Linked DNA regions of Homo sapiens. The protein of the gene in region 3 purifies or fractionates together with the protein of the main gene of each other region. This does not show direct contact. Each region holds a gene or a part of one and is shown on either strand. Other genes may lie near its edges.

Region 1 (3,501 bases), on a different chromosome or scaffold from region 3:
TGAAGCCACATCCAAAGCTGTTACTCAGAAAACTTAGTATCACTGAGAGTATATTGGAGAGCTCAAAGTCTTACTCAGGCAGCTGATCAAAGAATAATGGTCTTAGTCACTGTAAGTACTTTTGGATACCTGGCATAAAGGATGTAATGAATACATGATTGAATAAGGATATATCTTAAGAATGCATTTTCATAAAAACATAAAATCAGTTGAGATTATGTAAATTTTGAAGAATGAAGAAAGTAAGTTATCATAGCTTCTTCTCAAGTTTTATTTTTATGTCTTACAAATATGGCTGGGCAATACAACACAAGGCTTCCTTTTCAGGAATTTGGAGAACTTATGCTTGGTATTTTAAACTCATGAGAACTTAGTCTAGAAAGGGCCTCCACTTATTTGACCACAGGTAGAAGATTGGCTCTGCTTTCTTCCTGTAATAATATTGGTTTCTATAGGTCAAATGATACACAGTATAATTTTGTGGCATTTTGATTACAAGTTTTCCATTTAAAAATGGACAAAAATCAACTTCTTACTTGAAATTTTGGAGGTAGTATGTTACCAAAAAAAATGGTAGTTCTTGTAAAGGTATACCTGTGTCTAGACATAAGTTGCAGGTTTAAAAATCAATAGATTTGAATAAAGTTAAAGTCTAGAAAAATATGCAATGTATACATGCGGATGATTAGTAAACCCTAATATCCAAATGCAATGTCAATAGTGTTACTAAAAATGAACTATCGGCCATTATTGCAAAACTGCCAACTGAGAATATTGATATAGATACTAACTGTATTTATTTGTTTTTTCAGCAATTTATTTTAAAACAATCTTGGATATATTTAGTTACATCTGGAATAAACTCAGGTATTACACAGGGCCTTGAAACATTTATAAAAGGGTATATTAAACCCTGCCTTTAAGAAAACTATCATCTGGTCGAGGAGGGACATTTGTCAGTTGAAGTTCTTCAACGAGCCTGGAGGGAATGTCGCAGTGTGTTCTGTTTGGAAAGTAAGTTGTACCCTGACTGCCACTATGGAAGCTGAAGGGGGAGATACAAGCTGCTGCCTTCCAGATATATTTAAGAGACACTGATTTTGGAATAAGTCAGTGAATAAAAATAGGGGCTCAGGACTCATCCGAACGTGGGGTACTGATGCTGCTCAGATTCACTGCCCTGTGTTCTAGGGAGGGTATCGAAGCCCAAATTGTTGCTTTCTGCAGGAAACGAGTGTTTCCTGCCTCGTTTCCCACTGGAGTTGCCACATGTTGTGTTTTGCAAGCCTACTCCATCGGGTGTCCTGGGAATTCTATGAGCCACCCCTATGTTCAAATACTTAACTTTTTTTTTTTTTTTTTTTTTTTTTTTTTGAGACGGAGTCTCGCTCTGTTGCCCAGGGTGGAGTGCAGTGGTGCGATCTTGGCTCACTGCAACCTCTGCCTCCCGGGTTCAAGCGATTCTTCTGCCTCAGCCTCCCAAGTAGCTGGGACTACAGGTGCGTGCCACCAGGCCTGGCTAATTTTTCTATTTTTACTAAGACAGGGTTTCACCATATTGGCCAAGTTGGTCTCAAACTCCTGACCTCGTATTTTTTTTTTTCTTCAACAGTCAGTATCTGTTTTCGTGCTTACAACCAATACCCCCAACTTTTACAGACACAAAAGCAAACATAATAGACTTATTATTCCTTGTTATGGGCACTCGTTAAACATTTACAACACGGAAACACATGTCCTTTTGTTCTGGAAAATGTTTTAGAGTGGATTCTAGGTTTCATGTATTCCTCCCCCTTTTTCTGGATGAAGGGAGACACCAGGATGGCAGTTGTGTGCCTCTCCTTCTAGCCCCAAGTCAAGCTTCTAATGGAGTCTTTCTAAGGAAGTTGACGTTGGTAGAATTCCTGCTGCATCACAGGGGAGTTTCAGGTCAATTTATGGTAAATACAGAAAAAGTCAGTCCCCAGAATGACAATTATTAGCTCTAGGTGGAAAAAAAGTTATGTAGGAGGGAAAGCAAAATCATTTTTACCATGTAGTTTAACTAAGAGTACTGGCAAGGTCATAAGAAATAAATGCCAAATATTGATATAATCATATTTTAATACAAATATTTCTGAAAGAGACATGAGAAGAGTATTTTATGTGGTGAGTTTGGGGAGAGAAAGACATCTAAATGAATAATGAATGTCTAAAATTGAAAAAAAAAGTATTAGTGTCATAAGCATGCTATTCAGAAAAGTGAACATAAATAAAATAATGAGTTAGAAGTAGTAAAATTTGTTGTCTCAAGGTAACAAAAATGAGGAAGGGCAAGGGACTACTATGTTTCGGGAAAAACAAAAACAAACAAACAAAAAACCTGTAAAGCCCTTTGACCCTTTGCACTACATGCACTTATAAAATACAAAGAACAAGGCCAGGAGTGGTCGCTCATGCCTGTAATCCCAGCAATTTAGGAGGCTGAGGCAGGTGGATCACCTGAGGTCCAGAGTTCAAGACAAGTCTGACCAACGTGGAGAAACCCCGTCTCCACTAAAAATACAAAATTAGCCAGGCATGTTGGCATATGCCTGTAATCCCAGCTATTCAGGAGGCTGAGGCAGGAGAATCACTTGAATCCGGGAGGCAGAGGTTGTGGTGAGCCGAGATTGTGCCATTGCACTCCAGCCCGGGCAACAAAAGTGAAACTCCGTCTCAAAAAAATAATAATAAAATAAAATACAAAGAACATTGCATTGAGATAAAAATTACAATGTATCATTGATTTGAATTTTTTCTGCATGTAATTCATCAGTTAATTTTATTCTGTAGAAATTTTTCCCTGCTATTTCTCCATGGCAAATGAAAGTAGTGATCGTGAAACATTGTGTTTTATTCATTCAAAACAACAGAATACAAGACAAAGGAAAATATTTCTATACCCTACAAGAACCAAAAATCCAAAAGTACACACTAACACTAGAAAAAGTGTTCTGAACAGGTTGACCATATAACTTATTCTAACAAGGATAATACGAAATAAACCAGAATTATCCCAGACATTTATTACTCATACTTCCAAATGGACCTTTTCTTACATCTTACAAGATAGTTAGTGCTCTGAATCTGGAAAAATATGTGTAAACCGACCTTGAGGATTTATAAAATTTCCTTAGAAAGCATTGCAGTTAATTCTAGAAGCTATTTTTCTACCTATTGAATCACTAGAAATAGAGAAGCTTTTAAAAAAATTAACTTGTTTTTAGTTTTCAGATACATGTTTTAAGAGCCCAGAGTCTTGGCTGGAAGAACTCTAATGAACAGATCAGTGAAAAAATATACTTATACAGAAGTCTGAAGGTGGAGATCAGTACTTTCTAGATGTTACATTTTAATAGTAGCTAAACTAATGATGACATGTTTATATTGTCTTATATTTTTTAAAGATATTTTCTTATCACTGTTGTGAAAAAGAAACTTTGTACTCACAATTTAGCGTCTCCACTTACACTTTATAAG
Region 2 (3,501 bases), on a different chromosome or scaffold from region 3:
TAGGTTGTGATGATCACAGAACCCACCTCCTAGGGCTGTTTTGGACATAAAGTGAGATACACATATAAAGTGCTTATCACGGGGCTGGGCACATGGAGGAGCACAAGAATGCTGGCTGGCGTGATTTGTTCACAATTCCAGCCCCTGCAAAGGAAAGGGAGGGTGTCTTCTCTCCTTCCGAGAGAGGGTTGGGCCTCAGATGTCATCTAGGTCATTCTAAATGTCAGGGCTTGATGTGCAGGCAAGACGACCTCCCTCGGTTTAGCTGGTTCTCCAGGTAGCCTCAGTCCCAGCCATGCCCAGTGCCCACTGGGCATTAGTCAGCCAGTGTTTTTGGCCCTTCCAGGCCATAAACACAACCCCTATGGAGAGGGTCAGGCCTGGAGAGCAGGTGCACGGGCACATGATGGGAGTGAGTGCTTTCCATCTCATTGGTTCATTCATTTGTTCATTGAACAAATATTAACTGAGCACCTATTGCATGTCAATCCCAGTTCTAGTCACTTGAAATACAGAACAACAAGACAAAGTCCCTGCCTTCATGGAACTTACACTGTAGAAAGGGAGATAATGAACATAACAAATAGGTAAGCTGCATGGTACGTAGGGAGGTGACAAGAGTGACTTCACTGGGCCAGCTCTGGTGACCTCGGGGGATGAGTCTCTTAGCACACAGGCAACTGGCAGAGGCCTCTCTGGCATCAGAGCCCAGAACCCTTCTCCAGGCCCAGGGGGGACTCACCTCACCCTGCCAGGAGAGCCCCTCACCAAGGGGTGAGGGGATACGATGCATCCATAGTCTTTCCAAAAGTAAAGCCTGCCTGGGTTTACCTGCCTGACCATAGAATCGATATTCTGCAAGAGGCTCTGCTGAAGTTCACAGGCCCCAAGACCAGGGTCCAGTAGCCTCTTCCATCCTGCACGGGGCCACAGGACAGGAAGTCAGAAGGGGGACTCCTGGGCAGCCAGAAGATCACAGCAATGTTTGTGTGTGCATCCTCTCACCCTGAAAAGACTGAGCAGCTAATGGGGACAGGGAGAGGGGCCTTCGCGACAGGCCCCCAAGGGGTAGCCAACAACAAGGGAGGGGAGGTACGTGAAAATTGGTCCCAAGAGCTCAGCAGGCACAGCAGTCTGGAGCCATTTAATGTAGAAGCACGCTGCCCTCTGCACCAACATCTCCGAGGGATATATCCTGGTATAACCAGATTTTACAGCCCTATGTGAACTTCTATGGCTCAAATCCTCTATTGGAAGCTCATATAAGACATTTCTTTTAAAGCTGAGTGTTAGGGAAAAGGTTACTTTCCCTGAAGAACTGGTATGTTCTGCTGGTATGTTCTGCTGAACAGTAACAATGTAACAGACCATGTCTCCCTTTTCCTTTTGGTTGCCAGGAAACTCTAAGCCAGTGGTCTCCAACCTTTCTGGCACCAGAGACTGGTTTCAAGGAAAATAATTTTTCCACAGGATGGGGTGCGGGGGGGTGGGGGGTGATGGTGTCGGGATGAAACCATTCCACCTCAGATCATCAGGCATTAGTTTGATTCTCATAAGGAGCATGCACCCTAGGTCCCTTGCATGCACAGTTTACAATAGGGTTCACACTCCTATGCGACTCTAATGCTGCTGCTGATGTGACAGGAGGTGTAGCTCAGGTGGCAATGCTCCCTCAACCTCTGCCCACCTCCTGTTGTGCGACCTGGTTCCTAACAAGCCACTGACCGGTACTGGTTCATGGCCTGGAGGTAGGGGAGCCCTGCTCCAAGCCACCAGACACGAGGCTCAGCTCCTTTTCAGTGAGTCCATGAGGTCCTGAGGCTTAGATAGCAGGATTTTATATTTTTCTCCATCATCTAGGCCTCCTATCTGAGAATACAATTCCCACAGTCCTGATTTTTAATGCTATTTTAGTTTTTTACACTACATATTTCCCGTGTACTCATTCAAATCCCAGGTTGAATAGTACAGTGTAAAATAAATAGATCTGGACACAAATCAACCAGTTCTATGGAGGAAGCGAACGCCCTGTTTCACATTTAGAGAAAATCATCCAGGTGTGGTGGCACAGGGAGACTCAATGGTCATGTGTAACACAGGGTCAGATAACCCCGGCCAGGGGAAGGCTCCTCCCTACCTCAGTGCTCTCATTCAGATGCTGTCTTTAGATTCTACCCTATCTGCAGATGATGTCCGTGTTTACACCCCTTGCCTAGTCGTTCCCAGAACTCCAGACTCCTATATCCAACCGCATCTTTGACACCCCTGATGGGATGCTGAACAGGCTCTCAAACCCCCCACGTCCACGGTGAGCTCCTGGTCACCCAGCCTGCCTCCTTGCAGTCCTCCCCTCTCAGGCAGTGGCAGCCCCGTCTTTCCTGTGGCTCAGACCAAAACCTGGGTATCCTCCTTGATTTCTCTCTTTCATTCATCGCCCACATCTGCTATGCGAGCAAATCCTGTAGGCTTACTTGCAAAATACAGCCAGAATGTCACCACGGTTTGCCACTTCCACCACCACCACCACCACCCAGCTCCAAGCATCTGTCTTCCCCTCCCTGGTGCAGGGATGCTGTGGGGAGCCCTTAGGTGTCAGCCCCCTGCAATAACTACTTCATGTGATCATTAATTTTATATGTCAACATGACCAGGCCATGGGATACCCAGATATTTGGCCAGACATTATCCTGGGTGTCTCTGTGGGGGTGTTTCTGCATGAGGCTAATGTTTAAATCAGCAGACTAAGTAAAGCAGATGGCCCTGCCCAAGGGGGAGAGGTCTCATCTGATCAGGGAAGGCCTGAACAGAACAAAAGACTGCCCTCTCCTCAGTGACCATAAGAGAATTCTCCCTGCTTGGCTACCTTCGGGCTTGAACTGAAATGCTGGCTCTTCCTAGGTTTGAAGCCTGACCAGCCTTTGAATGGGAACTCCACCCTCAGCTCTCCTGGGTCTCCAGCCTGCCGACTCACCCTGCAGATCTTGGGACTTGCCCGCCTCCATAATTACACAAGCCAATTCCTTATCATCAATCAATCCCTCTCTTTCCTCTTGCTGTATTAGTCTGTTCTTGGCTGAACAGAGCCAGCAAGTCCCTTCTTGGGTGGACCACTGGACTCATGCAATGCCTGGTCAATGTGGGTGGGAGTGTGAAGGCCTGGCCCCCTCACCCCAGTAGGGGACAACTCTGAAGGGCTGTCCTCATAGATGTGGCTGAGGCCTCCAGCCGAACTGAGCTGAGGCTGCATCACTGCTCAACTCCCTTCATTGCCCAATCCCGCTTCTGGCTCCCACTTCCACAGGTGTTGATCCAAGAGCACCTTCCTGGACAAGATGACCTATGACCCCTGGATCACTGCATATCAGCCCCTAACTCTATCCCTGCATCTAGCATGTCCCTCACAACAGCCAGACTGATTCTTGTAAAACCAAGTCAGAGTGCCCCTCTTCCATGCAGCCCTGTATGGTCCATCACTCAAGGGTGCCCCACAGTCCTGCCTGT
Region 3 (3,501 bases):
AACTGAAGTGTACTAAGGGAGCTATTTTAAGTAACACTATACTAAATTATCTAGCAAAGTGAATAATCACTCCCCTGTTTGTTAAATCTGGGTTTTTATACGGAGTTACTTCAAGCAAGGAATTCCTAAGATGCAAAATATGGTACAGATGATTTAAGTGTCAGAAATGCACAAACACCATTTAGACTCCACCCTTGAAATCCCACCTTCCTTTCCCCATAAGTACCCATGCTCCTTGGGTGGACGCTGCCACTGGGCTAGGTGCTTTACGTTTGCTAAGGTTTAATTTTCGAAATAGCCCCATAGAAGACTATTATCCCATTTTACGAGAGAAAATGGATCAGAAAGGCTAAGTAGTCTGTGGAAGAGCTAGGGCTCCAATTTCCATCTGACTGATCACTAGGGAAACACTCAAAAGGCTTTTACTCATCCTCGGAGGCCCCTGGACTTTAATTCTCTTTATGGAGTTATTTCGACTAACATGTACTTTCTGAAATTTTCCACAAAGGAGACATGTTTTTTGTAAACCAAGGAACAACTGTCCCCACTCTGGGATGCTCAAGGAACAAAGCTCTGACTGTCTAGTTAGGTTGACCCTGGTGTTCATCGTGGGCCAACGAGGCTGGGAGCTCATCCTCCCATCTTGGGGCTCCGTGAAGTACCCACTCTGTGCCACTGACTCCAGAAGGAGTCTCTTTTTTTTTTTTTTGAGATGGAGTATCCCATTGTCGCCTGGGCTGGAGTGCAATGGTGCGATCTCGGCTCACTGCAACCTCCACCTCCTGGGTTCAAGCAATTCTCCTGCTTCAGCCTCCGAGTAGCTGGGATTACAGGCACCCGCCACCACTCCTGGCTAATTTTGTTTTTCTTTTTTGTATTTTTAGTAGAGACGGGGTTTCACTATGTTGGCCAGGCAGGTCTCGAACTCCTGACCTCATGATCCGCCCGCCTCGGCCTCCCAAAGTGCTGGGGTTACAGGCGTGAGCCACTGTGCCCAGCCATGAGTCTCTCTTAAGAAGCAAAACCAGTGGTAGTGAGAGTAGCAGGTCCCTAAGCTATAGCCTCCCCTATTGACCTGAGCCCTCTCTCTCAAGGCTGCTCTCTGCCTGTGCCTAGCAGAATCCATGCCAACCCTCGGACACCATAAAGCGAGTTTCTATAAATTTATGGAAGAGGCAAAGCCTTGAAAATTTTTCTAGTAAGTCTTGAAAATTATTTATCAATGGTGACACTAGCACATAATAGCAAAGCTGGGGAAACTGCAAGGGCTGCTGGTGCCCTTCTGGGTGCAGGCTCAGGCCAGGTCTAGAAAGAAAGCAGGACGTGCTATGGCACATTCCTCAAACTGTGGCCACCTGGGTTCTGTCAGCTACAGCCTGGCACAAGAAGAAGACATTCCCAAACACTGAGAAATTTGGGTGACATTCTTACCATCCATCTTCACAGTTATAAAAACGGGCTTGGAGTGGATCTCTGCCTCCTTCTGCCAGGAACCTGTTGGTGACTTCACCCATGGAGTCACGGAACAGTAGTAGTTGCCAAAGTCCTGGTCCTCGGAGCCATGCACTTGCAGCAAGAATTCCAGCACACTCACGCGCTCCAGGCTGAGGTCGCTCTTCCAGTCCCTCCGGGAGGTGGTCACGATGCCCTTCCGATCCAGGGAAGACAGGAGCACAGGAGCCTTGTCCAGGCCAAAAGAGTGCACCGCAAACCAGGACACATCAAAGGCCATGTCATCTACGGATTACCAAGCCAAAACCCTGGGGTCAGTGCAATGGGCAGAAGTCATATGTATGGCCACATCCATGTATGAGGCCCTTACTACGTATGGCAAGCACAACACTACATGCCTTCGGTCTCACTGGATCCTCACAACAGCCCTATGATGAAGGCACTATCATACTTTTATTCTGCCATTATTGCCAGACTATATACCTGCTCAAGGTCATGTAGTCAGCAGGTAGCAGAGTGTGCAGCTTAACCCAGGGAGTACAGCTCCAGAGCCCAGCCTCTTAACCACTGCACTGCTGCCACCCAGACTAAGGGGCCACAGGAAGAAGAGTCAGGGCCAAAAACTGTCTCCCACAGAGAACACTGATCCGAAAGCTGGTATGCCAGGACACTGCAGGCTCTCTCTCCCAAAGAAAGCCAGCTCCTTTGACAGTTTAGGCAGAAGAACCCAAGACTGGAAGGACACTAAAGTCATATGGAACAAAATGTACATAAAATGAATTGCACCAAATTTAGAGTTGTAAACAGTTTAGATTTTATTGTACACTATGGTTTTTCTTTCCTTGCAGAAGTGCTTAAGTTCAAAACAAGAGGAAAAAAAATGTCAAGCTGAGAAAATGGAACACAGTTTAACAGTCCCAGAGAGTAATGCTGAATCGTAAAGTACTCTGCAAAATTAAGATTCTAACAGCCTCAAATAAATTAATATGGGCATAAGAGAAAGAAGACTTTGGCACAAGTGGTAATTCTCATGGAATGTGAAAACAGAGCACACATCATAAGCCCTTGACCTCTTCCCTTGACTGGTACCAACCATTATCAGCTGTGTCGGCTCTGAGATTCATCCAGCAACAAAAGACAACAGCCATGACACTGTTGTCTTAAATCCACTTGAGAAAGCGTTTTATATAAATGTCAAATAACACAATTTTTTGCCGAACAAGAGATAACATTTGTTCATTTAGTAAAAATACACTAATAGCCTCAAAAAGCACATAAGGCAAATAAATTATTTTCAGATGCTTACATATTAAAAAAGTAAGCAGAACTAAAAGCAAGAATTTCTATGAAATTATCCAAATGATAATTCTTCCTTAGCTCACTCTAAACATGTAATATCTTCTCTTTTTCTCCCATTGACCCACTGTGGCACTTGAGCATAATTTTTTTTTTTTTTTTTTTTTTTTGTTCCCAGTGTCTCTCCAAGGAAACTAGCTCCCTGGGGGCAGAGGGAGTGCCATAAACAGCCTCATGCTCTCACAGTGCCAAGGGCAGAGTGGACACCCGCATCACTCTCGTCTTCAGTGAAAACTCTTAACTCAGTGCTGCTGTCACCTGCAGGTGCTGGGTGGTTGCTGAAGGCAAAAAGCCAAACCGGGTTCCCAGACTCTAAGCCCTGATCCCCGCTGTGCCTTATGGTGTGGGAGCCAGGCTCCAGGGCCAGGCTGCCTGGGCTAGCATCCCAGCACCAGCACTAATGAACCATGTGACCTGGGCGAGTTCCCCAAGTTCACTGAGACTTAGTTTCCTCATCTGCAAAATGAAAATGACAAAACCCAGGGTTAAATTTACCACATTTATTAAAATGCTTAGAACAGCACCTGGAACACAGTAAGTACTCAATAAAAGTTGGTCACCATGAACAACATTATCTCCACAGCTCAACACACATGCTCCTACACACAGACCTGCTAAGGGGAAGGGCATTACCAGCTGCAGCAAATGCAGCTGGTGGCCAGTCCACCCCAGCTGGTGGGCTGGGCCTCTGGC
Region 4 (3,501 bases), on a different chromosome or scaffold from region 3:
GTGAGGAGAGAATGAAGGAGAATCAATATTTTAGAAGAATGGCTGAGAAGTTTCAAAACTGATTAAAGATATCTACCCACAGATTCAGGAATCTTAACGGAATCCCAATCAGGACAAACAATAGGAACCCATCATTAAGACACAGCAGATTGAAGCTAAACAAAATCAAAGACAAAGAGAAAACTTTTACATGCAGCCAGAAGAATAAGACAGGTTACTTATAAAAGAGCTGCAGTTAGACTGGCAACTGACTTTTTAATGATGACACTGGAAGATGGAATGATATATTCAATATACTGAAATGACCACCCAGCAAAAGCACCCTTCAACAATGAAGGCAAAAGCATGACATTTTCAGACAAACAATAACTGAGAGAGTTTACTACCAATAGACCATCATCAAAAGAAATCCCAAAGGATGCATGATCATTTAGGAAAATTACCCCAGATGGAATGTTAGAGGTGTAAGACAGAATGAATAGTGAAGAAAGTGGTAAATCTGTGAGCAGATTAACTAAACATTTGGCTATAAAACAATAATACTTCGAGGCACTTGAAAATATAAACAGACTTGAAATATACAAGAAATGTAGCATATAAGTTGGAGGTGGTGATGATGGTGGTTAGTGGAGTTAAATTATTGTTAATCTTGTCTTGTTTTAAAGGAGAACAGCATCAAGAAAGAAAGAAAAAGACAATTCTTGGCTGTGCAGGACTCTCTTGATCATTGTACAATAACTAGCATTCTTGTCTTCTTTCCACTAAATATAAGTAGCACCCATGTCCTCCCATCACCATGGTTACCAAAAACACCCTCATTAATTTTCAATATGTCCCTGGGGGCAGTGCTGCTTTTGTCAGGAACTGCTTTTGTAAATTCTACAATGCTCAGGCTCCATGATTACAATTCATAGAACAGCAAACACTTAGAAGTCTGGCAACTAAATGATTGTCTTTTTTTTACCTAGAGGTGTTACTTTTAAATTGGAAAGTTTATTCCTGATTATTTTCATTCATTCGTTCATTCAAGAAATATACATTGAATGCCTATTATTATCAGGCAAACTCTTAAGTCAATAGACCCAAATTCGAGTTTTTGTTTGTTTGTTTGTTTGTTTGTTTGAGAGAAGATCTTGCTCTGTCTCACAGGCTGGAGGGCAGTAGTGCAATCCTGACTTACTGCAACCTCCTCCTCCCAGGCTCAAGCGATCCTCCCACCTCAGCCTACCCAGTAGCTGGGGCTACAGGTGCTCACCATCACACCTGGCTAAATTTTTAGTTTATTTTGTAGAGACGAGGTTTTGCCATGTTGCTCAGGCTAGTCTTGAACTCCTGGGCTCAAGCAATCTACCTGCCTTGGCTTCCCAAAGTGCTGGGATTACTGGTGTGAGCTACCGCGCCCAGCCAAATTCAAATTTTACTTCTGCTACTTATTGGCCGAATGAGCCATGTGACCCAGGAGTTTCTCTTTTTGACCCAAGTTTCTCTTGGTGTAAAATGGATTTAATAATAATGCCTAACCTTATCTAACTTACAGAATCACTGTTAAAATTGACTAAGATGCAGGGCATTTAAAAGTGAACAGAAAATTGTATCACATCCACAAAACATAGATAAGCTAAGCACATACTACATGTTAGCTTTTATTATGTGTACTCCTATGGTGGCTAAAATATGCTACATTTATCAGGACCAACTATATGCCGTGTTACTCTAGCTATGGCATGCTACTCGTTGCAGATAAGAAAGCAGAAAGAACAGAAAGGTTAAGTTGCTTACTTAAGGCCAGCCAGCCAGTAAGTGGGAGGAAAGGGCATCTGAACATATATTTGTTTGAAACTCTTGTTTTAACTTATCCACCTTCTGAAGAGTGTGGTTGACTCTCTCTCTGTGTGTGTGTGCGTGCGTGTGTGTATGTAGCATTGATTCATTTATTCAACAGTTATTTACACCTATTATGCACCAGGCTCTGTTTTAAGTTCTGGGGATACAGCAGTGAACAGAACACCAAAATCCCTTCCTTTCTCTCTTCCTTCCCTTTCATTCTCCCTTCTGTTGCAGGCTCCTCTCTCCACCTCTTTTTCCTTTCTCTCCTTTTTCCATCCCTCTATTTCCCTCCACCACTCCCCCTCCTCTTCCCTTCACTCCCTTCTTTCTCTCCTCCCCCCACCCCTCCTCTGCTCCCAGTCGAGACAGGACCCACCAGGCCTGGTGGGAGGGCCATACATTTTGGTACCAGTGCTTGACTAGGCGGATGAGGCTCTTGAGCTTGGTGGGGCGCTGCTTCAGGAAGTCTCTCTGTAGTTCTGTGAAGCAGGTGGAGAACTCGCCCTCTTTCTGCAGGTCGGTGCACTCCTCGATGAGCTTGACATAGATTTGGGGGTTAGGTTTATAGCCGCCAGTCAACTGACCTGTTCGGGCAAAATCTACAACTTAGGTGTCAGCTCTTCTCTGAATTTCCTTCAGTCACTCTGAGGGGACAATCTCCCTGGCCATGGGGTTTGATTGAAAAGTGCAGCAGACCCAGGGCTGGGAAGTCTTGAGGTCCATTCCTGATCCTCCCTCCTGCCCTCTCCACTGCCATCACCCCATCCAAGCCACCACCGTCACTCGCCGGAACTATGGCAGCAACCTCTTTACAGGTTCCCCCACAGCCTGTTCTCAACCTGGCACCTAGAGAATGCTGCTGATCATGCTGCTTCCTGCATCCCATAACATCTGGAATTTTAAAACCCAAAGATCTTATGGTGGCCAATGATGTCTGGTGTGATCTGGTCTCTGGAACCTCTCCCACCTCACCTCCTGTCTTGCTTCCTTTGCCCACTTTCTACTTCTCTGACTTTTTCTCTCTTCCTCAAATGTGCCATGGTCATTGCTGCTTCAGGGCCTCTGCACTTGCCATTCCTCTTCCCAGAACCTCCAGATCTCCCCAAGGCTCACTCCTTCTCGCCACTCAGGCTCAGGGACCCTCCCTCACGACCCTGTCTAAAAAAGCTCCCTAACCCCCATGGCTATCTATTGTTTCACCCTACTTAGTTTTCTTTTCTTTTCTTTTTTAATCACTCCTTATATTCTTTTCTTTTTTCTTTTTTTCGAGATGGAGTCTCACTCTGTTGCCCAGGCTGGAGTGCAATGGCATGATCTTGGCTCATTGCAACCTCCATCTCCTGGGTTCAAGCAATTCTCCTGCCTCAGCCTCCCGAGTAGCTGTGATTACAGGCACACACCACCACGCCCAGCTAATTTTTGTATTTTTAGTAGATGTGAGATTTCACCATGTTGGCCAGGCTGGTCTTGAATTCCTGACTTCAAGTGATCCCCCCACTTTGGCCTCCCAAAGTGCTGAGATTACAGGCGTGAGCCACTGTGACCAGCCTTCTCCCTCTTGTCTTTTACAACCATTGTACTTCAGCCCCCAACACAGGAGATGGCACAAAGGAGAGAATCCAAAACTTTCTCATACCCTGGTGTCTTTGGAGAGTCAGCATTTTTTTTTTCATG

Evidence for each region.
Region 1: the proteins of PTGFRN (region 3) and CD226 purify together in Homo sapiens (co-immunoprecipitation; one large-scale study listed by IntAct). This does not show direct contact.
Region 2: the proteins of PTGFRN (region 3) and TSPAN15 purify together in Homo sapiens (co-immunoprecipitation; one large-scale study listed by IntAct). This does not show direct contact.
Region 4: the proteins of PTGFRN (region 3) and OAS1 purify together in Homo sapiens (co-immunoprecipitation; one large-scale study listed by IntAct). This does not show direct contact.

Annotation. Positions count from the first base shown.
Region 1 is NC_000018.10:69,857,374-69,860,874, forward strand, and holds part of CD226 (CD226 antigen isoform a precursor), read right to left. Parts: 3' UTR 1-3,501.
Region 2 is NC_000010.11:69,499,964-69,503,464, reverse strand, and holds part of TSPAN15 (tetraspanin-15), read right to left. Parts: intron 1-3,501. UniProt on the Homo sapiens protein: Part of TspanC8 subgroup, composed of 6 members that interact with the transmembrane metalloprotease ADAM10.
Region 3 is NC_000001.11:116,982,916-116,986,416, reverse strand, and holds part of PTGFRN (prostaglandin F2 receptor negative regulator precursor), read right to left. Parts: intron 1,738-3,501; coding exon 1,432-1,737; intron 1-1,431. UniProt on the Homo sapiens protein: Inhibits the binding of prostaglandin F2-alpha (PGF2-alpha) to its specific FP receptor, by decreasing the receptor number rather than the affinity constant. Functional coupling with the prostaglandin F2-alpha receptor seems to occur.
Region 4 is NC_000012.12:112,909,961-112,913,461, reverse strand, and holds part of OAS1 (2'-5'-oligoadenylate synthase 1), read right to left. Parts: intron 2,412-3,501; coding exon 2,227-2,411; coding exon of another isoform or gene 2,204-2,226; intron 1-2,203.